Linked DNA regions of Homo sapiens: regions 2, 3 and 4 are each linked to region 1. Evidence: fine-mapped expression QTL. A gene starts in region 1. Each other region holds a variant in brackets. All regions are shown on one strand. Distances are between the middles of the regions. Region 1 holds the start of GFPT2 (glutamine-fructose-6-phosphate transaminase 2). Region 2 has its middle 20 kb from the start of GFPT2. Region 3 has its middle 70 kb from the start of GFPT2. Region 4 has its middle 62 kb from the start of GFPT2.

Region 1 (5,148 bases):
AGCTGGGAAGGACTGGGAGAACAGGCGAGTTTGTGTCCATCACCCAAGGGGTCACCCAGGCCCTATTTGGAAATAAGGACTCCAGGTTGCTCATCTTCAGATTTTGTCAAGAGAAGCCAAAACTCCCACCTACTTATGTGAAATCTCCCAATTTTGTACTTTGGTAACTAATAGAGGAAAAGGTTTAAACCCTGTGCACCAAACAAAAAGATGTCTGTCTTCCCTGTTCGGCCAGTACTCTACCAGGCTGTAGCCCGTGCTCAAGGTCCTCCCTCCACAGCAGCACTGCCCTGATCGGCATCCCGTCCCTGCTGGTGACCAGTCTCTGGACTAGCCCTGCGGCTCACCTGCCCCTTCTTTGAGGGGAGGACCACACCCATGAGATCTTCGAGTCCCCCAGGGCCTGGAAAACACTGGGCATTTCCACTAGTGGCTGAATGAAAAAGGAAGCAGAGAAGGAAAGGAGAGAGACAGGGAGGAAATATTGTAAATTTTCTGTCGCAGAAAGTCAGCAAAATGCCAGCAACTTTCAGATGTCAATAAAACCAAAGTGTCATTTCAGCTAAATTCTCAGTGCACTGAAAGTTTTTGAGAATCATCTGCTGTTTGTAGAGGATCAACTACTGCCGAGTCCTGGCTTCCCATGAGAGAAGCAGCAGGATAAAGGACAGCAAGACATAATCTCAGCAGTGTCATCAGCCAAGTGATAAGGAAGGGCCTTAGGTCTCCGCCCCTGAGGGAACGGCCCAGGAGATCTGAGACCCGAGGCCTGCTCAGACGCCAGGTGCGCACAGACTTCGCAGGGCCTCAGCTTCCCCAGCGTAAAGTGAAGAGCTTATCTGGTTCTTTCTAGGAGCATCTTCACGATTCTTGCAGTATCCTTGTACTAATAGCATAATCACTACTTTTTCTTCTGCAGAATTTGATTAAATTTTCAAAAATTTAAATGAATTCATGCCAAAAGAAAACAACCATAAAAGGAAAATCAGTATCACTTGTCATACATACTCAGACCATCATCCCCCCCAAACAGACCAATGTATTCAATTCTAGCCAGCTGCTGCTGCCTGCTCTGAGCCAGGAATGGCTTCCCCTCTGCACAGGATACTTAAGCAAGTGTCAGAGAGATGTTAAGGACACGTTAGCACCAAGTTGAAACTTTCTCCTGATGTTCTTGAAAAGGAAATAACTTTCCCATGCAGGGATTCCACGACTTCCTGCTGAGCTGTGCCCTCCCCACTTCCCCCACCCTGCCCCCAGCCCCAAATCAGCAAATCTGGGAATTCTGAGAAGGCACCTAAGCCAGCACGCACTCTTTGATTCTGGCTCCGAGTGGGCACCCCCATGGACCGCAGCCACTCCTGAGCCCTGGGTGTCCTTTGGGGACCTCAAGCTCCTTCTCACATACAACCACAAGTCAGTACCAGAAAATCTGAAGATACAGGTGGTCACACCCCAAAGCTCAACCTTTCCCTAGGAGACAACGCGTGTGTGTCCCTTTAAGAAGCAGAACAAAAACACTTGTGATTTTGTGAGCTGGAGGAGGTAGAGCCCCCCCAAAGCTCAGAGAGACTTGGGAAAAAGCAAGATGCCAGTAGGAAGGAGGATGACAGGCAGGGGTGGCAGTGGGGGCAGAGGAGCATCTGAAAGGAAGGGGAAGGGGAGCCTCTGGTGCTGTGGGCAGACCCTCCTGGTTCAAGGGTCTCCTGCACAAGTCTGGCCCCAAGGCCACCAGTTTTGGCCAAGGGTCTTGAATGCTACACTGAGAGGTGTGGAACATCAGGGCTTGGACATCTGGCAAAACTACCACCTTTGCCTCATCTCTGCCCCCAGAAACACCCAAAGGTGGCTCTACACATGGAGAATGGCGTCTGGGAGCACGAGATTTTAGCTGAGGGTTCAGGAATTTCCACGGATGCCTGTTCAGCCTGGGTGAGGCGGCATCCCGAAGCACGCTGCCCGCTCCGCCGTAGGTCGTTCCCTTCTGCCGAGCAGCTGGCCTCCGAGACAAGAGGCCTGCACAGACCTCGGCCAGGGCTCACCGCGGGCGCACCCCACCCCGGCCCTCAGCAAAGTCAGAGAGAGGCCTTTCATGGCTTCGAAAGTTCCTCCAGGTCCTCCAGCCACAGGAGGCTGGAATGGGTAACCGAATCCTACTCAAGGAAAAAAAAAAAAAAAAAAAAGAGCACAGTGACCTTTTGTCCCAGCAGAAGTTCCCGGCTCTCTCCCGGCCAGCGGAGGCGGCCCAGCCAGGAGAGTAAAGAATTGCAGATGTGCGCTCCGGGCCGCGGCCGCCCTCCCCACGGTCCCGCAGCCACGCGGGACAGCGCGGGAGCGCCGCGGGAATCGGACGCCCGGCCCCGCTCCCCGCCCCGGACTCCCTCTCGTGGCTTCGGGCCGAGGTTCGGGCAGTGACTGCCTCTTCCCCGCGCAAAGAGGCGGTAACGCGGCAGCGACCCTTCTAGGGACCAGACGTTCCTTTGGGGTCGCGAGGAGGACGCGCAGGCCCTGCCTGAGGCACTGACGCAGCGGGGGCGACCGGGCGGGCTGCGGGGACGGCGGGGCGGGGTCGCCTCTCCTCTCCTCGGTGGGCGCGGCGGGCTGAGTCGGGATGGGCGCCCCGCACTCGGGATGCGCCGGCCTGCGCGTGGCCGCCTTTGTGGGCGACTGGGAGACGTGGAGGAGAGCGACCTCGGTCGGCATGGGGTGGGGACCCCTCTGTTACGGGGTCCAGGCCGGACCGGACCAGGTCCCTCCCCTCCGTGGGGACCGGGCCTCGGTCCCCCTCACTGTGTCCGAGACCAGGAGTCGGGTTGGGCATCCCCCACCCACACCTCCGAGACGGCCACTCGGGGAACGCGGGTGAGGGGCAGCCAGGCCCGGCCGACGACAGCCCCTCGGTAGGGGCCCGGGGCAGATCGGCGCCCCCAGCCAGGTCCTCGGCGCCTGCTTGCGGGCGGAGGCGCGGAGAGGCTGCGGCGCCGGGACCCGCGGACGGCGTGGAGGAGGCGGCTCGGGCGGGCGCGGCACTCACCGCACATCGTGGCTGCTTCTCGGGCTCCTTCGCGGCTCGAGGGGGTCTGCCCGTTCGGACGCTGGGGCTCCTCCGTGGGCTCCTCCGTGGGCTCCGTGGGCTCCGTGGGCTCCGCGGGCTCCAGCTCCCGTCCGCTCGGCCTCCAGCCCTTATAACCCGGAGCCCTCCGAGAGGGCGGGGAAGGGGGCGGGGAAGGGGCGGGGCTTCCCCCGCCCGCCTGCTCCCATTGGCCCCCGGTTGTCGTGACAACGACGGGACCCGGCCCCCAGGAGCCAGGGAGGGGGGCCGAGGGGCGGCTCCCAGGCGCGGGTCGGGCGTGTAAGGCTGGGGCGCCGGGCGCCAGATCCCGGAGCGGGGCTTAGGGCAACCAACGGCCCGAGTTCAGACCCCGACTCAACCAGAGTAGGCGTGGAAGCCGGGCAGGGCCCGATCGCGCTGTGCCTCCGCTTTCCCGTCTGTGAAACGGGGCTACCCAGGGAAGCTCCCTCCCACGGGGTGCTGAGAAGTCAGACGGGCCGCGTAAGGGGCAGAGCGAGGGGTCCGGCATCACTCGCGCGCTCCGGAAACCCGCGTGAGCCGCTGTTCCTGCCGCGCTCCCATCTGAGTGACAGGCTTGTTTCAGAGCTCCGCAGACCTCTAAGCCTGGCCCTCACCCTGCGTGGAGAGAACGCCCGGGCTTGGCGGAGAGACGAGAAAACCGAGGCTCCCGGAGGCAGACAAGGACTCTGCCAAAACCGGACGCCGCGGCGGTGGCAGAATTCGACCCTGGGATTTGCCGCGGAGCCCGAGCTTGAAGGCGAGGGTTCCGCAGGTTGTGAACGAAGCTGGAGGCGCCCCAGGAAGCCCCGACCCCACCCGCGCCGAGCTGCCCCCTCCCCAGATCTGCCTCGCGCTGCAGGCCCGCGAGGGACCCGGGGGTTCCTACGCCTGGGGTCGGAATCCGACCCCCCAGTGAGGCACCAAGGCCCGCGTTTCTCCGCCCTGGTTCCCGGCCGTCCCTCCCGTTCCCCCTGCACTCTGGGCCCCTCGTCTCCCGAGGAAGGTCACGAGAACCGGCCCAACGTTTGCGCACTTTGAAGTTTTTTTTTTTCTTAAAAAAATCCTGAAATTCTAAACGGATCCTCCTCAGTCGTGTAAAAAAAAAAAGATTTTTACATCTCGTCTAGAGCATTTTTCTAACATAATCCCTCCCTAGTTTCACCGCGACTCTGCAAGCCCTGGGGGAAGGAGGTTGTGCCATTGGAGGGTTGGGAAAACTGAGGCTCCACGACAGCGAAGGAGGGGGCTTGGGTGAGTCCTGTTGTTGGGAAATCTCAGAGCGATTCAGGAGCCGCAGCGTTTGCCCCCAACCCTCCACTATGCAGGGTCGCTTTCCTTCCTTCCTTCTCTCATTCCTAAGAACCCACTTCACACCTGTCAGGGTGCAGGTGCAAGAGACTTATTGATGAATGAGAACAGATCTGGCCCTGCCCTCCTGGCACTTACAAGTGAAGGGGAAGCAGACACTAAGCTCGTGGTTACACAGAGAGCTAAAAATTCCAGGTAGGATACAAGGAGGGGGCTGGGCCAGCGGTGGAGAGGGTGCCAGGCTCTGCCTGGGACTGGGCAGGGCTGCGCTGGTGCAGGTGGTCCAGAGCCTAGCGAAGCCAGGAAGGAGGGAGCAGCAGGCAGTGCAAAGGTCCCCTGGATGAGGGCTAGAACTTGAATGTGGAGATCAGGTTGTTTGGCCCAGACTGGCCTCCACTGTTGTAACTGAGGCGGGGACAGGGTGATGTCAACAGGCCCTCTGATAGCACCAAGACCCCAGGAGCCCTGGGGTCTTAGCAGGGTCCAAATCTGTCCTTTATCCTCCTGGAGGAGTCACAGGTCCACGGTGAGGAACGGCATGAGTGCACACTACCACCCATGGGGATGTGTCTGTAGCAGCTGCCGGCCTAGCATCACTCCTGCTTTGAGAACCCTCTGAGAGTCATCTGGGAGGTTGATGGCCTGGGCCTGGCCACACAGCCTGGGCAGTGGTTCAGAGGTCAGCATATGGCCCAGGCTGGGACGTTGATGACCTGCTCCAGCACATGAGGGAAACCAGCAGAAAAGATGAACTTGGCCTGGTACAG
Region 2 (5,148 bases), 20 kb after region 1:
CGCCGAGGCTGGCTTTCAGAACAAAGGCAGCAGCAGGCTGGGGAGGTGAGGAACATGGTTGCGCCTGGTTGGATAGGTGCCAGTGGACACCCCATTCTGCAGTGGAGAGGTACATGGGCACTTGGATATGTATCTGGGGCTTAGAGAAGGAGCTGGGCTGGAGGCTGGTCAGAGTCGGGGGACCTGGATGGGAAGAGGTGGAGGGCGGGGACGGGGAAGATGCAGAGGAACCCGTGCCAGGAGGCCTGATCTGCACTCAGGTGCCTGCTCCTGCTGGCCTGTGACTTTGGGCAAGCCCCCACATCTCCTGGAGCCTTGATTTCCTCATCTGTAAAACGGGGCTGGGAAGGCCTAGCTCCCAGGCAGTCATGAGGACAGAAGAGAACAGGCTCTGCAAACTGCGTGGCACAGCGTGCATGCTCAGAGGACAGTGAGGAAGCCTGCAGGCAGGGCAGGGGCCAGGCCAGAGAAGGTCCCAGAGCCACAGCTCAGGGAGGGGCAGGCTGTCCATGGGGAGGGGCAGCTGCTTCTGGTTCCCTGTGAGCTAAACTCAAGTGTCCCTGGTGGAGTCCGATGGGTGCGGCTCAAGCTGGGGAAGGACGCTCCGTCAGTGGGGGTTCTGCAGCGGGGTCACTGCCAAGAACAGCTGCAAAGCCACCCTGGCGGTGGCATTCAGAGCCTTCATTATTTTCTTCAGAACACACAGCTGGGAAATAAATGATCACTGGCTGCAAGGATGGGTGTTGGCCAGATGGCCTTTCTGTCACCCCTCCCAGCTAAAAGGGATTTTGGGAAATTGTCTTGTCATCGGATGAGGAAAATGAGCTGTGTGCTGCCTGTTTTCAGATCGCGAGTGAGTCAGACAGTGGTGGGGCTACAGAGAGTCTCAGGCCTTTGGACCAATCCACCCACTGGACAGATGGGAGAGGGGCCCGAGAGGCTGGGCGCCTTGTGTGGATCATCCGGCAGGTCAAGGGCCCTCGAGGTGGCCACCAGCTGGTGCGGACTCCTGCCTTCAGGTGGAGCTGCACTCCGGGCTTTGGCATGAGCTCCAGGCCACCAGCTGGTGCGGACTCCTGCCTTCAGGTGGGACTGCACTCCGGGCTTTGGCATGAGCTCCGGCACCCCCTAAACTTGCCTGCGGCCCACTTAGGGATGCTTTCAGAGGGGCCCACCGTATCCTGGAGTCGTGGTGTGAGAGGTTTTGCGTGTGTGTGTGCGCACGCAAAGGGGGAGCTGGAGGCCGGGCATGTGTGATCTCCAGGGCCACGAGTGGTATGTGAGCTCCATTCTCTAATGGCAGGGAAAGTGGATAGCACAAGAAACTGCTGCTCCTCTTCCAGGCCTTGGCGGTTGCTGTTTCCCCGGCCTGAAGGCTTCCTCCCTTCCCAGGTGGCTCTTGTCCCCACTTCAGAGAAGCCTTCCTGACTGCTCCGTTGACAGCAGTCACCTAATTCAACCTGGCTACTTGCCTGACGCCCAGACCCTGCCCAGTGCCCCTGGGGTGCCCCCTTGCAGGCCAAGCCGCAGCTTCCATCACCAGGCCTTAGCCAAGCTTCCATCCTGTTTCCAGCTCCCTCTGGGAGGACCCTGGCTGGGCGAGCAGGGCCTTAGTAACCTCCCTCCTAGAGGAAGGGACAAGCTGGGGGGCCAGGGCTGCCCCTGGGATCTGAGGAGTGGGGTTGGGCAGAGGCAATCAGGTGTCTTACTGGGCCTGAGAGGGCGACTGCACAGCCTCATTCCTCCGCTACCAACCACTGAGACGGTGCAAAGCTCAGGCCTGGGCTGAGAAGCAACTGCCCAGCAGGCGCTTCCCCCAGAGAGCTCCATTTCTGTGGCCTCCCAGGCATGGCCTCCATACCTGGAACCCTCTCATGGCAGGGAACAGGGCTGCTTTGAGCCTGCTGGGTTAGGGTTTGGATCTCTGCTCTGATCCCAAGGCTCTTCATTGCTAGCTCAGCTCTCTCCAGACATGTGGACTCACATGTGAAATGGGAATTATACTCCAGCTCAATAACTTGTGAGGATAACATAAGAGAAGGTAACAGGAATGTTCATAAAATTCTATAGTAAATTTAAGTATTTTCAAAAAAAATAGAAATCAAGCAAAAATATTTTTCTGGTTACAATAAGAGGATAATTAAAAAAAAAAAATCTCTGCCAGGCGTGGTGGCTCACGCCTGTAATCCCAGCACTTTGGGAGGCCGAGGCAGGTGGATCACGAGGTCAAGAAATCGAGACCATCCTGGCCAACATGGTGAAACCCCGTCTCTACTAAAAATACAAAATTAGCTGGGCGTGGTGGCGTGTGCCTGTAGTCCCAGCTACTCAGGAGGCTGAGGCAGGAGAATCACTTGAACCCAGGAGACGGAACTTGGAGTGAGCCGAGATCATGCCACTGCTTTCCAGCCTGGGCAACAAGAGCAAAACTCTGTCTCAAAAAAAAAAAAAAAAAAACCAAAAAAAAAAAAAAAAGAAAAAAGAAAAAAAAATAAGCCTAGAGCAGAAGAGGACATTAGAACTGAAACTGTGGGCCAGGCGCGGTGGCTCATGCCTGTAATCCCAGGACTCTGGGAGGCCGAGGTGGACGGATCATGAGGTCAGGAGATGGACACCATCCTGGCTAATGTGGTGAAACCCCGTCCTACTAAAAATACAAAAAATTAGCCGGGCGTGGTGAAGGGCGCCTGTAGTCCCAGCTACTCGGGAGGCTGAGGCAGGAGAATGGTGTGAACCCGGGAGGCGGAGCTTGCAGTGAGCCGAGATCGCGCCACTGCACTCTAGCCTGGGCGACAAAGCGAGACTACAACTCAAAAAAAAAAAAAAAAAAAAAAGAACTGAAACTGTGTAAGAACGTGTATATTAAAACCTATAAGGTGCGGGATGCATACACAGTGGTATTCACAGGAAAGTTCATAGCCTAAAAACATCTTTTAGAAAATATAAAAGAAGAAAACTCCTTGCAAGCAGGGCTTTTTTTTTTTTTTTCTTTTCTGTTTTGTTCACTGATATATGCCAAGTGCCTAGAGCCGAGGAGGCGGAAGAAGCTGAGGAGGACAGAATGGGGCAGGCTCTGTGGTCAGGAGAGGAGGAGGAGGCTGCTGGAAACTTTGAGGACTGAAAACTCAGGGCCAGACTAGATAAGGGCCATTGTGGCTGGTGCCAGCTGGATATTACGAACAGAGAACAAGATCGTCCCCCAGACCAACCTAGTGCTTTCTACATAGGGTCACCGCATAATTT[C/A]CTGTCTAAACCAGGGACTCTGAGAGTAAAGAGGTGTGTTGTTTGTAACCATGCCAAGACAACAGAAGTAAGCTGGGACTGTACCCCACAAATCAGTTGTGAGGCCACTTTATTCTCACGAAATCCCAGAGAAGGCAGGGGCAGATATGTGTGACGCATGTGTGTGTGAAACCCTGAACTAATGGAGATAACCAGAAAACTGAAATTGAACTCCATCCTGGTGGAATGGGGCACAAAATTCAAATTAAACTTAGTTGTAGGCTTAGTTATGCTGGCTCATGCCCGTAATCTCAGCACATTGGGAGGCCGAGGCAGGAGAATCACTTGAGCCTGGGAGTTTGAGATCATCCTGGGCAACACAGCAAGATCCCATTTCTACAAAAATGAAAAATGAGCTGGGCATGGTGGCACATGCCTGTAGTCCCAGCTACTCAGGAGACTGAGGCAGGAGAATTGCTTCAGTTAGGAGTTTGAGGTTGCAATGAGTTATGATCAAGCCACTGCCCTTGAGCCTGGGCAACAGAGTGAGACTCTTATCTCCGAAAAAAAATAGTTATAGAAAAAAATAAGCAGTTACATTTTATATTCCTGCAGGATACAGGTGGCACCCTCAAAATAGGTAGTTTGAGAAGATGTTAGTAGAAGGTGTGTGAAGGTGAGGACAGGGTGTGAGGAGAACACAGGCAGTACTCTGGTGCTAGTAACAGCAGGGAACCGTTACTGTTTCTAGGCCAGAAGGAGCAATGGGAGAGAGAAGTTTCTGGAACTCTGAGGCTGAAAGGGCTGTGTGGAGTTTGTCTGATAGAAGCTGTGACCTTCGGCTGTGGGACGCAGGAGGCCCTGCAGGAAGGATTTTCTTCTTCTCTCTCCCTCCAGTCTTCTGCTAAACACCTCCCTTGGGCTGAACCCCACTCGAAGTGACAAGAAAAAAGAGCCCTTTCCATGTGACCCATAACCAGCCTCCTGGAATACAGAACAGGATGGAGAAAAGTGGAGGGTGGGTCAGGAAAGGTAGATGGAAGATCTCCAAAACAGCTCACCCCTTCTCTCCTCAGCACCCAGTTCATTCAGGTAAAACTTTATGTCACCAAAGAGGGGTACAGTAATTCCTGATAGCAACAGCAGGGTTGGCGACTTTTTCCAGAAAGTATCGGATAGTAAATACTGAAGTTTTGTGAGCCATATCATCTTTGTTGCAACTCAGCTTGGCTGTGGCCGTGGACAATCCATACGCGAATGAGTGTGGCTGTGTCCCAATAAAACTTTGTTTACAAAAGCAGATGGCAGAGCAAATCGGGTTCATAGTTTGCTAAACCCTGAGCCGTAGTGTCATTGTGGGGTGGGGTTGGCTCCTTGGTTTGGTCCTACTGGAAACCGAAAATGTTAGCCACCACCCATGTTTTTCACATGTGATAGCATGTTTTTAACACGGCATAGGAGAGAAACAACAGGTCAGAACATGGCTGCCCAAGCCTTTGCTTTGCTGGGAGACCTGGGGTGAAAATCTCACTACAAATACCCAGACTCAGGGGCAGTGGCAAACAGCTTGATTGCCTGGGCAGGATCCGGAAAGAATGAGATTGGAAATTTGGGGGCCAGGTGGTCTGGAGGCAAGTCGTGTGGCTGGGGCACTTGTAATGGGCACAGCATGATGATATTGGCAGCTTCCGTGAATACCCACTCAAGGGCATCCACAGTGGAGGAAGTGTCCCAAATGCCTACGTCCCTAGGTCTCCAGACTCAGTGTGCCAGGACATTCCAACATTTCAGCCATGTTCCTTCAAAGCTTCCATCAGCCAACCCGCAGACCGATAGCATCTCTCCCTCCTCTCCAGCCGGCACATCACATCCAGCGGGACCATAGGGTGTGTCCATGTCAATGACTGTGGGCTGACTGAATCTCAC
Region 3 (5,148 bases), 70 kb after region 1:
GTTCAATATGGAATTTCAGATCTAGTAAAAATATTCTCCAGGAATGAGGTGAAATAAAGACATTCTCAGAGGAAGAGAAACTAAGATAATTTGTCACTGGTACCCTACCTTTCAAAGATTTTAGAGGAATTTTTTTGAGACGGAAGGGGAATTATATAAAAAGGAAACTTGAAACAGGAGGAATAAAGGAAGAAGAACATTTACCTATGTATGGGTAAATACATAGGCTATTCTTCTATTAGGTCCTTTAAAATACTTTAAAACATGTTTGATGTTAAAAATAAAAAAGTGTCCAGGCACGGTGGCTCACACCTGTAATCCCAGCACTTTGGGAGGCCGAGACAGGTGGATCACCTGAGGTCAGGAGTTCAAGACCAGCCTGGCCAACATGACGAAACCCTGTCTCTACTAAAAAATAAAAATAAATAAATAAAATTTTGCTAGGAGTGGTGGCGGGCGCCTACCACTCAGCGGGAGGCTGAGGCAGGAAAATCGCTTGAATCCAGGAGGTGGAGGTTGCAGTGAGCCAAGATCGCACCACTGCACTCCAGCCTGAGCAACAGAGAGAGACTCCGTCTCAAAAAATAAATAAAGAAATAATAAAAAACTATAAGTAGTGCTGCAGTAAACATATTGTTTCATGCGTCCGTGTGAAGAGACCACCAAACAGGCTTTGTGTCAGCAACAAGGCTGTTTATTTCACCTGGGTGCAGGCGGGCTGAGTCCGAAAAGGGTCAGCAAAGGGTGGTGGATTATCATGGTTCTTATAGGTTTTGGGATAGGCGGTGGTGTTAGGAGCAATGTTTTGCAGGCAGGGGGTGGATCTCACAAAGTACATTCTCAAGGGTGGGGAGAATTACAAAGAACCTTCTTAAGGGTGGGGGAGATTACCAAGTACATTGATCAGTTAGGTTGGGACAGAAACAAATCACAATGGTGGAATGTCATCAGTTAAGGCTATTTTCACTTCTTTTGTGGATCTTCAGTTGCTTCAGGCCATCTGGATGTATAGGTGCCGGTCACAGGGGATATGATGGCTTAGCCTGGGCTCAGAGGCCTGACACACATGTGTGCAAGTGTCTTCATAACAGAATGATTTATAATCCTTTGGGTATATACCCAGTAATGGGATCGCTGGGTCAAATGGTAATCCTGGAACTTAAAGTAAAATACCAAGTAATAAATAAATAATATATAAATAATAAAATAGAAATAATAAATAACATATAAATAATAAATAAACTATAGCATTACCTGGTGGGGCTCCTAATGCAAATAGATACAACACATAAGACAACTACGGTGTAAAAGGAGAGGGTGTGGTGAAGGTCTTTGTATTCTATTTAAAGTCAAAATGTTGATTCTGAGCAGACAGTGAAAAGTTGTATATACAAATCACAATCCCTAGTGTGATCACTAAAAAACATGCAAAGATACATATCAGAAACAGGCTGGGCGCGGTGGCTCACATCTGTAATCCCAGCACTTTGGCAGGCTGAGGCAGGCAGATCAGGAAGTCAAAAGATCGAGAGCTACTCGGGAGGCTGAGGCAGGAGAATCACTTGAACCTGGGAGGTGGAGGTTGTAGTGAGCCGAGATGGCACCACTACACTCCAGCTTGGCAACAGAGCGAGACTCTGTCTAAATAAATAAATAAATAAAATAAAAAAGATATATGTCAGAAGCATATAGATAAATTAAAATGGAGGCCAGGCGCAGTGGCTCACGCCTGTAATCCCAGCACTTTGGGAGGCCAAGGCAGGTGGATCACCTGAGGTCAGGAGTTCGAGACCAGCCTGACCAACCTGGAGAAACCCCATCTCTACTAAAAATACAAAAATTACCCAGGCGTGGTGGGCACGCCTGTACTTCCGGCTACTCGGGAGGCTGAGGCAGGAGAATTGCTTGAACCTGGGAGGCAGAGGTTGCAGTGAGCCGAGATGGTGCCATTGCACTCCAGCCTGGGTGACAAGACAGAAACTCCATCTCAAAAAAAAAAAATTAAAATGAAATATGAAAAAATTCTCAAATAACTGAAAAGATGGTATCTTCAGGCTGATAACCACACTGTCTGGATCATTGTAAGTTTAAAAGTCCTGAAATCTGGTATGGGTTAGTCCTTCATTGTTCTCAAAAGCTATCTTGGCTGTTGTAGGTCCTTCACATTTCCATAAGAATTTTAGAATCACCTAGTCAATTTTCACTAAATAGCTTCCTGGGATTATGACTGAGATGGCACTGAATCTGTAGATTAACTTTGGTAGAGCAAACATCTTAGCAATAGAGAATCTTCCAGCACATGAGTGAAGTATATCTCCCCATTTATTTAGATAGTCTTTAATTTTTCTCAGATATGGTTTGTAGTGTGAATACACAGGCCTTTCACATATTTTCTCAGATTTGTCATATTTTAATGCTATTTTAAATGATGTTTATCTTTAACTTCAATATCTCATTTTTCAATCCTGATATGTAGAAATATAATTAATTTTGTATATTTATTTCGAACTCTGCAATCTTGCTAAACCCAGTTATGAATTCTAGTAGGGTTTTTTTTTGTTTTGTTTTGTTTGTAGATTTCATCATAGTTTCTCCATAGGGGATCATGCCATCTGTGAATAAAACCATTGTTTTTTTCTTCTTTCCCAATTTGGATGACTTTTATTTCTTTTTTATGCCTGACTGCACTGGCTAGAGCCTCCAGTGCAATCCTGAGTGGAGGTGGTGAGGGTGAATATTTTTGCCACATTCCTGGTTGTAGGAAAAGGTATTTAGCCTTTCAGTATTAATATTATGTTAGCTGGAGGTTTTCCATACGCTCTTTACCAGGTTGAGGAAGCTCCCTAGTTTGCTGAAACTTGTTTTTTATCAGGAGTAGATGTTGGATTTTGTCAAATGCTTTTTCTTTAATTGATTGAGGTGATTATATGATTTTTCTTTTTTAGTTTCTTAATATGGTGTACTAGTTTCCTATGGTAACAGATTACCACAAACTTGGTGTCTTTAAAACACAAAAATTGATTCTCTCATGGTTATGGAGGCTAGAAATCTGAAATCAAGGTGCCAGCTGGGCCATGCTCACTCAAAGCTCCAGGGAAGAACCTGCCTGCTGTTTCCAGCGTCTGGTGGCCCC[A/G]GGCCTTCCCTGGGTAATGGTGGCGCAGCGCTGATCTCTGTCTGCCTTCACCTTCACACGGCCCTTCTTGTTTGCCTCTGTGGTCACTTCTCTCCTTACAAGGACACCAGTCATTGGACTTAGGGACCACCCTAAATTCCGGACAGTTTCATCTGAGATCCTTAACTAATTACATCTAAAAAGACTATTTCCAAATAAGGTCACATTCTGAGGTTCTGGGTGGAAATGACCTTTTTTTTTTTTTTTTTTTTTTTGAGACATGGCCTCGCTCTGTTGTCTAGGCTGAAGGGCAGTGGCACGATCACAGCTCACTGCAGCCTCAAAGTCCTGGACTCAGGCAATCCACCTGCCTCAGCCTCCCAGGTAGCCAAGACCACGGGTGCATACCACTACACACAGCTAATTTTTAAATTTTTTGTAGAGGCAGCATCTTACTATGTTTCCCAGGCTCATCTCAAACTCCGGGCTCAAGCGAGCCTCCCACCTCAGGCTCCCAAAGTGCTGGAATTACAGACATGAGTCACTGTGCCCGGCTGACACACAGTTGTTTTTTTTTTTTTTTTTTGAGACAGAGTCTCGTTCTTGTTGCCCAGGCTGGAGTGCAATGGCACAATCTCTGCCCACTGTAATCTGCACCTCCTGGGTTCAAGCAATTCTTCTGCCTCAGCCTCCCTCGGGAGGCTGGGATTATAGGCATGTGCCACTACACCAGCTAATTTTGTATTTTTAGTAGAGATGGGGTTTCTCCATGTTGGTCAGGCTGGTCTCGAACTCCCGACCTCGGGTGATCCACCTGCCTCAGCCTCCCAAAGTGCTGGGATTACAGGCGTGAGCCACTGCGCCCAGCCAACATACATTTTTGAGGGACACTAGTCAACCCACTAAACATGACATATTTTATTCGATTTTTGAATGAATGCTAAGCCAAACTTGCCTTCTTGAGATAAACCCCTATAGGTCATAATGTATTAATCTTTATAAGTTAATCTTTATAAACTTTTCTTTAAAAAATTCATCTATATTCATTAGAGATTTTAGTCCTTAATTTTCTTTTCTTGTAATGTCTTTGGATGATGATAATTATTATTATTTTGAGATGGAGTCTCACTCTGTCTCCCGCGCTGGAGTTCAGTCGCAGTATCTTGGCTCACTGCAAGCTCTGCCTCCTGGGTTCAAGCAATTCTCCTGTCTCGGCCTCCCAAGTAGCTGGGATTACAGGTGCCCGCCACCATGCCCAGCCTTGTCTTCGGTTTTGATATCAGCATAATAGCAGCCTCATAGAAATAGCTGGGAAATATTCTCTTCACTTCAATTTTATGGATTTGTTTGTGTAAAATCGTTATTATTTCTTATTTAAATGTTTGGTAGAATTCCCCAGTGAAAGCACCAGGGCCTGGAGTTTTCTTTGTGGGTGAGTTTGTAACTACGAATTTAATTTCTTTAATAAACAAAGTGCTACTTAAGTTATCTGTTTCTTCTTGAGTCATTTTTAATGTCTGTGGCTTCCAAGGAATTTGTGCATTTAATCTAGGCTTTCAAATTTATAGACAATATGTCTTTCTTTCTTTCTTTTTTTTTTTTCTTTTTTTTTTTTTTTTTGAGATGGAGTCTCACTCTGTTGCCCAGGTGGGAGTGTAATGGTGCTATCTCAGCTCACTGCAACCTCCACCGCCCAGGTTCAAGCAATTCTCCTGTCTCAGCCTCCCGAGTAGCTGGGATTACAGGCACCGACCACCACGCCTGGCTAATTTTTGTATTTTTAGTAGAGACGAGGTTTCACTGTTGGCCAGGCTGCTTTTGACCTCCTGACCTCAGGTGATCCACCCACCTCAGCCTCCCAAAGCCCTGGGATTACAAGCGTGAGCCACTGTGCCCGGCCTATATATATATATAATATATATAATATATAATATATAATGTACATATTATATATAATGTATATATTACTTATAATGTAAATATTATATATATTTTATATATATTTTGAAACTGAGTCTCGCGCTGTCTCCCAGGCT
Region 4 (5,148 bases), 62 kb after region 1:
GGAGGCTGAGGCAGGAGAATGGTGTGAACCCGGGAGGTGGAGCTTGCAGTGAGCGGAGATGGCACCACTGTGCTCCAGCCTGGGCGACAGAGCGAGACTCCGTCTCAACAACAACAAAAAAAAAGAAAAAGAAAAGAAAGATGTTAATAGCAGAGGAGCTGTGCAGAGGGGTGGGTGGCAATGGTGCAGGGGATATATAGGAATTCTCTGTACTTTCTATTCAATTTTGCTGTGAGCCTAAAACTTCTCTTGAAAAATAGTCTATTTTTAGCCGGGTGCCGTGGTTCTTGCCTGTAATCCTAGCACTTTGGGAGGCCGAGGCAGGCGGGTCACCTGAGGTCAGGGAGTTCAAGATTAGCCCGGCCAACATGGTGAAACCCCATCGCTACTAAAATACAAAAATTAGCTGGGCATGATGGTGGCATGCACCTGTAATCCCAGCTACTCGGGAGGCTGAGATGGGAGAATCGCTTGAATCCCGGAGATGGAGGCTGTAGTGAGCCGAGATTGCGCCACTGTACTCCAGCCTGGGCGGCTGAGCGAGACTCCATCTCAAAAAAAAAAAAAAAAAAAAAAAAAGTTTATTTTTAAAAATAATAGGAATTGGGCAGAAAAACAGATCACTAATGCCATTGAGCCAGCCTGAGACTCCTCTCTTCTTTTGTTTCCCTTTGGTATTGCCTGGCCTAGACTCACAGGCTGCCTGAAGCCCAGAAGTAAGTGCTGGATGTGAACAGAAAGAGCTCTAAGAGAAGCCCTTGATGCAAAGAGTGGAGACGGGGGCCCCTAGGTATAACAGAGAGTCGGGGAAATCTACTTGCTTCCATCTCTTCCACCCTGCCCTCCAGGCAGTCTCACAGCGTTGCAGCAACAGTAGCCTCTGGAAGGTACCTGAAACTCTGAGGGAGGAAAACCCTTCCTAACCAGACAGCTGTGGTCCCAAGAGGATAGGGGGACTCCCCACAGCTTTTGTTTTCTGTGTTCTCACACTGCCTGGCTCCACAGGCAGACACAGTGGGAAGAAGTACATGACAGAGCTGGAAAACGAAAGTCCCAACATTCGAGTTAGAAACTCAGGAAGTTTGGGGCGGGGCACGGTGGCTCATGCCTGTAATCCCAGCACTTTGGGAGGCCGAGGCGGGTGGATTGCCTGAGGTCAAGAGTTCAAGACCAGCCATGGCCAACATGGTGAAACCCCGTCTCTACTAAAAATACAAAAAATTAGCTGAGCGTGGTGGCAGGCACCTGTAATCCCAGCTACTTGGGAGGCTGAGGCAGGAGAATCGCTTGAATCCGGGAGGCGGAGGTTGCAGTAAGGCAAGATCCTGCCATTGCACTCCAGCCTGGGTGACAGAGCAAGATTCCGTCTCAAAAAAAAAAAAAAAGAAAAGAAACTCAGGAAGTTTTGGGGTTGGTGGGGTGACTGGATGCAAAAACGTGTTGGAGAGATGACAGAGAGGAAGAAGCTTTAAAAAATCCATCTGATACATATACAATTTTGTCTGAACTCTTGCACTCACCTCTTAGCTGGCCATGTGCATGTATGCATCTGACCCTAAACGTCAGATTGATGGCTTTGAGAGCTAAGCTACAGGGGAGACCACCATTCAGGTCCCAGATTGGCCACTGGGTGCCGCACAGGCAGGACAAATATAAATACCACTGCGAAGGCTTTGAAAAGTAAACTGAGATTGGAATCACAGTACTCAGAAAGCAGGGAAGCACCTGATTGCTAAAACAAGCAAACAAATCTCAACATTCTCCATTAGAGCTAAACGAGACTTAGAGTTCCAGAATGTAATATTCAAAATGTCCAGGACACAAGAGTGCTCAATATATGAAGAACTGGGCAAATCTTGACAACTCTCAAGGGAAAAGACAGTCAACAGATGCCAACCCAGAGATGACACAGATGCTATTAGAAGAAGATTTTAAAGCAACTATCACAGTCATGTTCCAGGAAGTTAGGGCAAACAACCCTTTGAAAGGAGTGGAAAGATAGCAATTTTTAGCAGAGAAATAGAAGATATTAAAAAGAACCCAATGGGAATTTTAAAACTTAAAAAAACTATAACCAGGCCTGGTGTGGTGGCTCACACTTATAATCCCAGTGCTTTGGGAGACTGAAGCAGGAGGATCTCTTGAGGCCAGGAATTTGAGAGCAGCCTGGGCAACATAGTAAGACCTC[A/G]TGTCTACAAAAAATTTAAAAATTAGCCAGATGTGATGGTGTGCACCTGTAGTCCTAGCCACTTGGGAGGCTGAGGTGGGAGGCTCACTCCAGCCCAGGAGTTCAAGGCTGCAGTGAGCTATGATTGGGCCACTGTACTCAGCCTGGGTGACAGAGGAAGACCCTGTCTGTAGTAATAATAATAGACTGGGGAAGAAAATTACTGAACTTGAAGACAGAGCAAACTAAATTACTAAAATGACTGGATGACTACAGAGAACAAAAATGTAGAAAAAAATGAACACAGCCTCAAGCCTGTGAGATATATCAAAGGGCCCAATATTCATGTCATCATAATTCCAAAAGAAAAGGTGAAATAATGAAAAGGAGTGTGAAAAAATTTTTGAAAAAGAATGACTGAAAACTCCCCAAATTTGGCAAAAAAAAAAAACACCCATAAACTTACAAATGTAAGAAGCTAAGTAAAACACAAACAGGATAAACTTAAAGAAATCCATGCCCACACATATCATGTACTGAAACTAATGATAAAGAAATATATCTTTAAAATAGAAAAAAAGGACACACTATAAATATGGAAACATCCATTCAAATAACTGCGGATTTCTGTTTTTGTTTTTGTTTTTGTTTTTGTTTGAGATGGAGTCTCACTGTTCTCGCCCGAGCCGGAATGAGATGGTGGGATCTCGGCTCACTGAAACCTCTGCCTCCTAGATTCCAGCAATTCTCCTGCCTCAGCCTCTCAAGTAGCTGAGATTATAGGTGCCCGCCACCACGCCCAGCTAATTTTTGTATTTTTAGTAGAGACGGAGTTTCACCATGTTGGCCAGGCTGGTCTCGAACTCCTGACTTTCATACACGTCCGTGTGAAGAGACCACCAAACAGGCTTTGTGTGAGCAATAAAGCTGTTTATTTCACCTGGGTGCAGGTGGGCTGAGTCCGAAAAGAGAGTCAGCGAAGGGAGATAGGGGTGGGGCCATTTTATAGGATTTGGGAAGGTAATGGAAAATTACAGTCAAAGGGGGTTGTTCTCTGGTGGGCAGGGGTGGATCTCACCAAGTACATTCTCAAGGGTGGGGAGAATTACAAAGAACCTTCTTAAGGGTGGGGGAGACTACAAAGTACCTTCTTAAGGGTGGGGGAGATTACAAAGTACATTGATCAGTTAGGGTGGGGCAGGAACAAATCACAATGGTGGAATGTCATCAGTTAAGGCTGTTTTTACTTCTTTTGTGGATCTTCAGTTACTTCAGGCCATCTGGATGTATACCTGCAAGTCACAGGGGATGCGATGGCCTGGCCTGGGCTCAGAGGCCTGACATTCCTGCCTTCTTATATTAATAAGACAAATAAAACAAAATAGTGTTGAAGTGTTGGAGCGGCGAAAATTTTTGGGGGGTGGTATGGAGAGAGAATGGGCGATGTTTCTCAGGGCTGCTTCGAGCGGGATTAGGGGCGGCGTGGGAACCTAGAGTGGGAGAGATTAAGCTGAAGGGAGGTCTTGTGGTAAGGGGTGACATTGTGGGGATGTTAGAAGAAACGTTTGTCGTATAGAATGATTGGTGATGGCCTGGATACGGTTTTGGATGAATTGAGAAGCTAAACGGAAGATACAAGGTCCAAATAAAAGGAGGAGAAAAATGGGTATTAAAGGACTAAGAATTGGGAGGACCCAGGACATCCAATTAGAGAGTGCCCAAGGGGGTTCAGCATAATTACTTGCTTGGTTGGCAAGTTTTTGGGCTCTATCCTTGAGTTTTTTTATGTTGTCATACACCAGGCCAGATTGATTTAGGTAAAAACAACACTCCTCATTTAAGAATATGCAGAGTCCTCCTTTCTCAGCAGTAAGTCAGTCAAGGCCTCGGCGGTTTTGGAGGACAACTGCAGCTAACGAGTCAACTTGGGCCTGGAGGACTGATAAAGTTTGTGATTTTGAGGGCCTCTAAAAGTATTAAAGCAGCAGCAGCCGCTGCACGCAGACATGAGGGCTAGGCTAAAACAGTAAGGTCAAGTTGTTTGGACAGAAAGGCTACAGAGTGTGGTCCTGGCTCTTGTGTAAGAATTCTGACCACGCTAACCATGCCTAGGAAGGAAAGGAGTTGTTGTTTTGTAGAAGGTGCTGGGGTTTGAGAGATCAGTCGGACACGATTGGCAGGGAAAGCACGTGTGTTTTTGTGAGAATTATGCCGAGATAAGTAACAGATGAGGAAGAAATTTGGGCTTGATTGAAGTAATGGGGGCTGTCTGTGAAGCTTTGCAGCAGTACAGCCTTGGTAATTTGCTGAGCCTAATGGGTGTCAGGGTCAGTCTAAGTGAAAGCAAAGAGAGGCTGGGACGAGGGGTGCAGGGGAATAGTGAAAAAAGCATCTTTAAGGTGGAGAACAGAATAGTGAATTGTGGAGGAACGGATTGAGGACAAAAGAGTGTACGGGTTGGGCACCACAGGGTGGATGGCAAAACAATTTGGTTGATAGGACGCAGATCCTGAACTAATCTGTAAGACTTATCCAGTTTTTGGACAGGTAAAATGGGGGAATTGTAAGGAGAGTTTATAGGTTTTAGAAGCCCATGCTGTAGCAGGCGAGTGGTAACAGGCTTTAATCCTTTTAAAGCATGCTGTGGGATGGGATATGGGCGTTGAGCGGGGTGAGGGTGATTAGGTTTTAATGGGATGGTAATGGGCATGTGATCAGTTGCCAGGGAAGGAGTAGAGATGTCCCATACTTGTGGGTTAAGGTTGGGGGATATGAGAGGAAGATGCGAAGGAGGCTTTGGGTTGGGGAGAAGGGCGGCAATGAGATGCGGCTGTAATCCAGGAATAGTCAGGGAAGCATACAATTTGGTTAAAATATCTCGGCCTGATAAGGGAACTGGGCAGGTGGGGATAACTAAAAAAGAGTGCATAAAAGAGTGTTGTCCAAGTTGGCACAAGAGTGGGGGAGTTTTCAGGGGTTTT

The links.
Region 2: its variant is fine-mapped to the expression of GFPT2 in whole blood (TOPMed, PIP 0.94).
Region 3: its variant is fine-mapped to the expression of GFPT2 in cerebellar hemisphere (GTEx, PIP above 0.99). The same link has a PIP of 0.9 or more in cerebellum.
Region 4: its variant is fine-mapped to the expression of GFPT2 in lung (TOPMed, PIP 0.98).

What each region holds. Positions count from the first base shown.
Region 1 is chr5:180,350,177-180,355,324 of GRCh38, forward strand. It overlaps GFPT2 (glutamine-fructose-6-phosphate transaminase 2), which reads right to left and starts at 3,160. Exons shown (of 19, transcript NM_005110.4): 1 at 3,035-3,160. The coding sequence starts at 3,041. RefSeq lists an enhancer at 1,314-1,814 and a silencer at 3,187-3,416.
Region 2 is chr5:180,370,404-180,375,551 of GRCh38, forward strand. No RefSeq gene overlaps it. Among named protein-coding and RNA genes, the nearest start is that of GFPT2, 20 kb to the left of the region's middle. RefSeq lists an enhancer at 1-369. The variant C/A (reference allele first, on the strand shown) is at 3,244.
Region 3 is chr5:180,420,669-180,425,816 of GRCh38, forward strand. No RefSeq gene overlaps it. Among named protein-coding and RNA genes, the nearest start is that of GFPT2, 70 kb to the left of the region's middle. RefSeq lists an enhancer at 3,173-3,672. The variant A/G (reference allele first, on the strand shown) is at 3,134.
Region 4 is chr5:180,412,648-180,417,795 of GRCh38, forward strand. No RefSeq gene overlaps it. Among named protein-coding and RNA genes, the nearest start is that of GFPT2, 62 kb to the left of the region's middle. The variant A/G (reference allele first, on the strand shown) is at 2,189.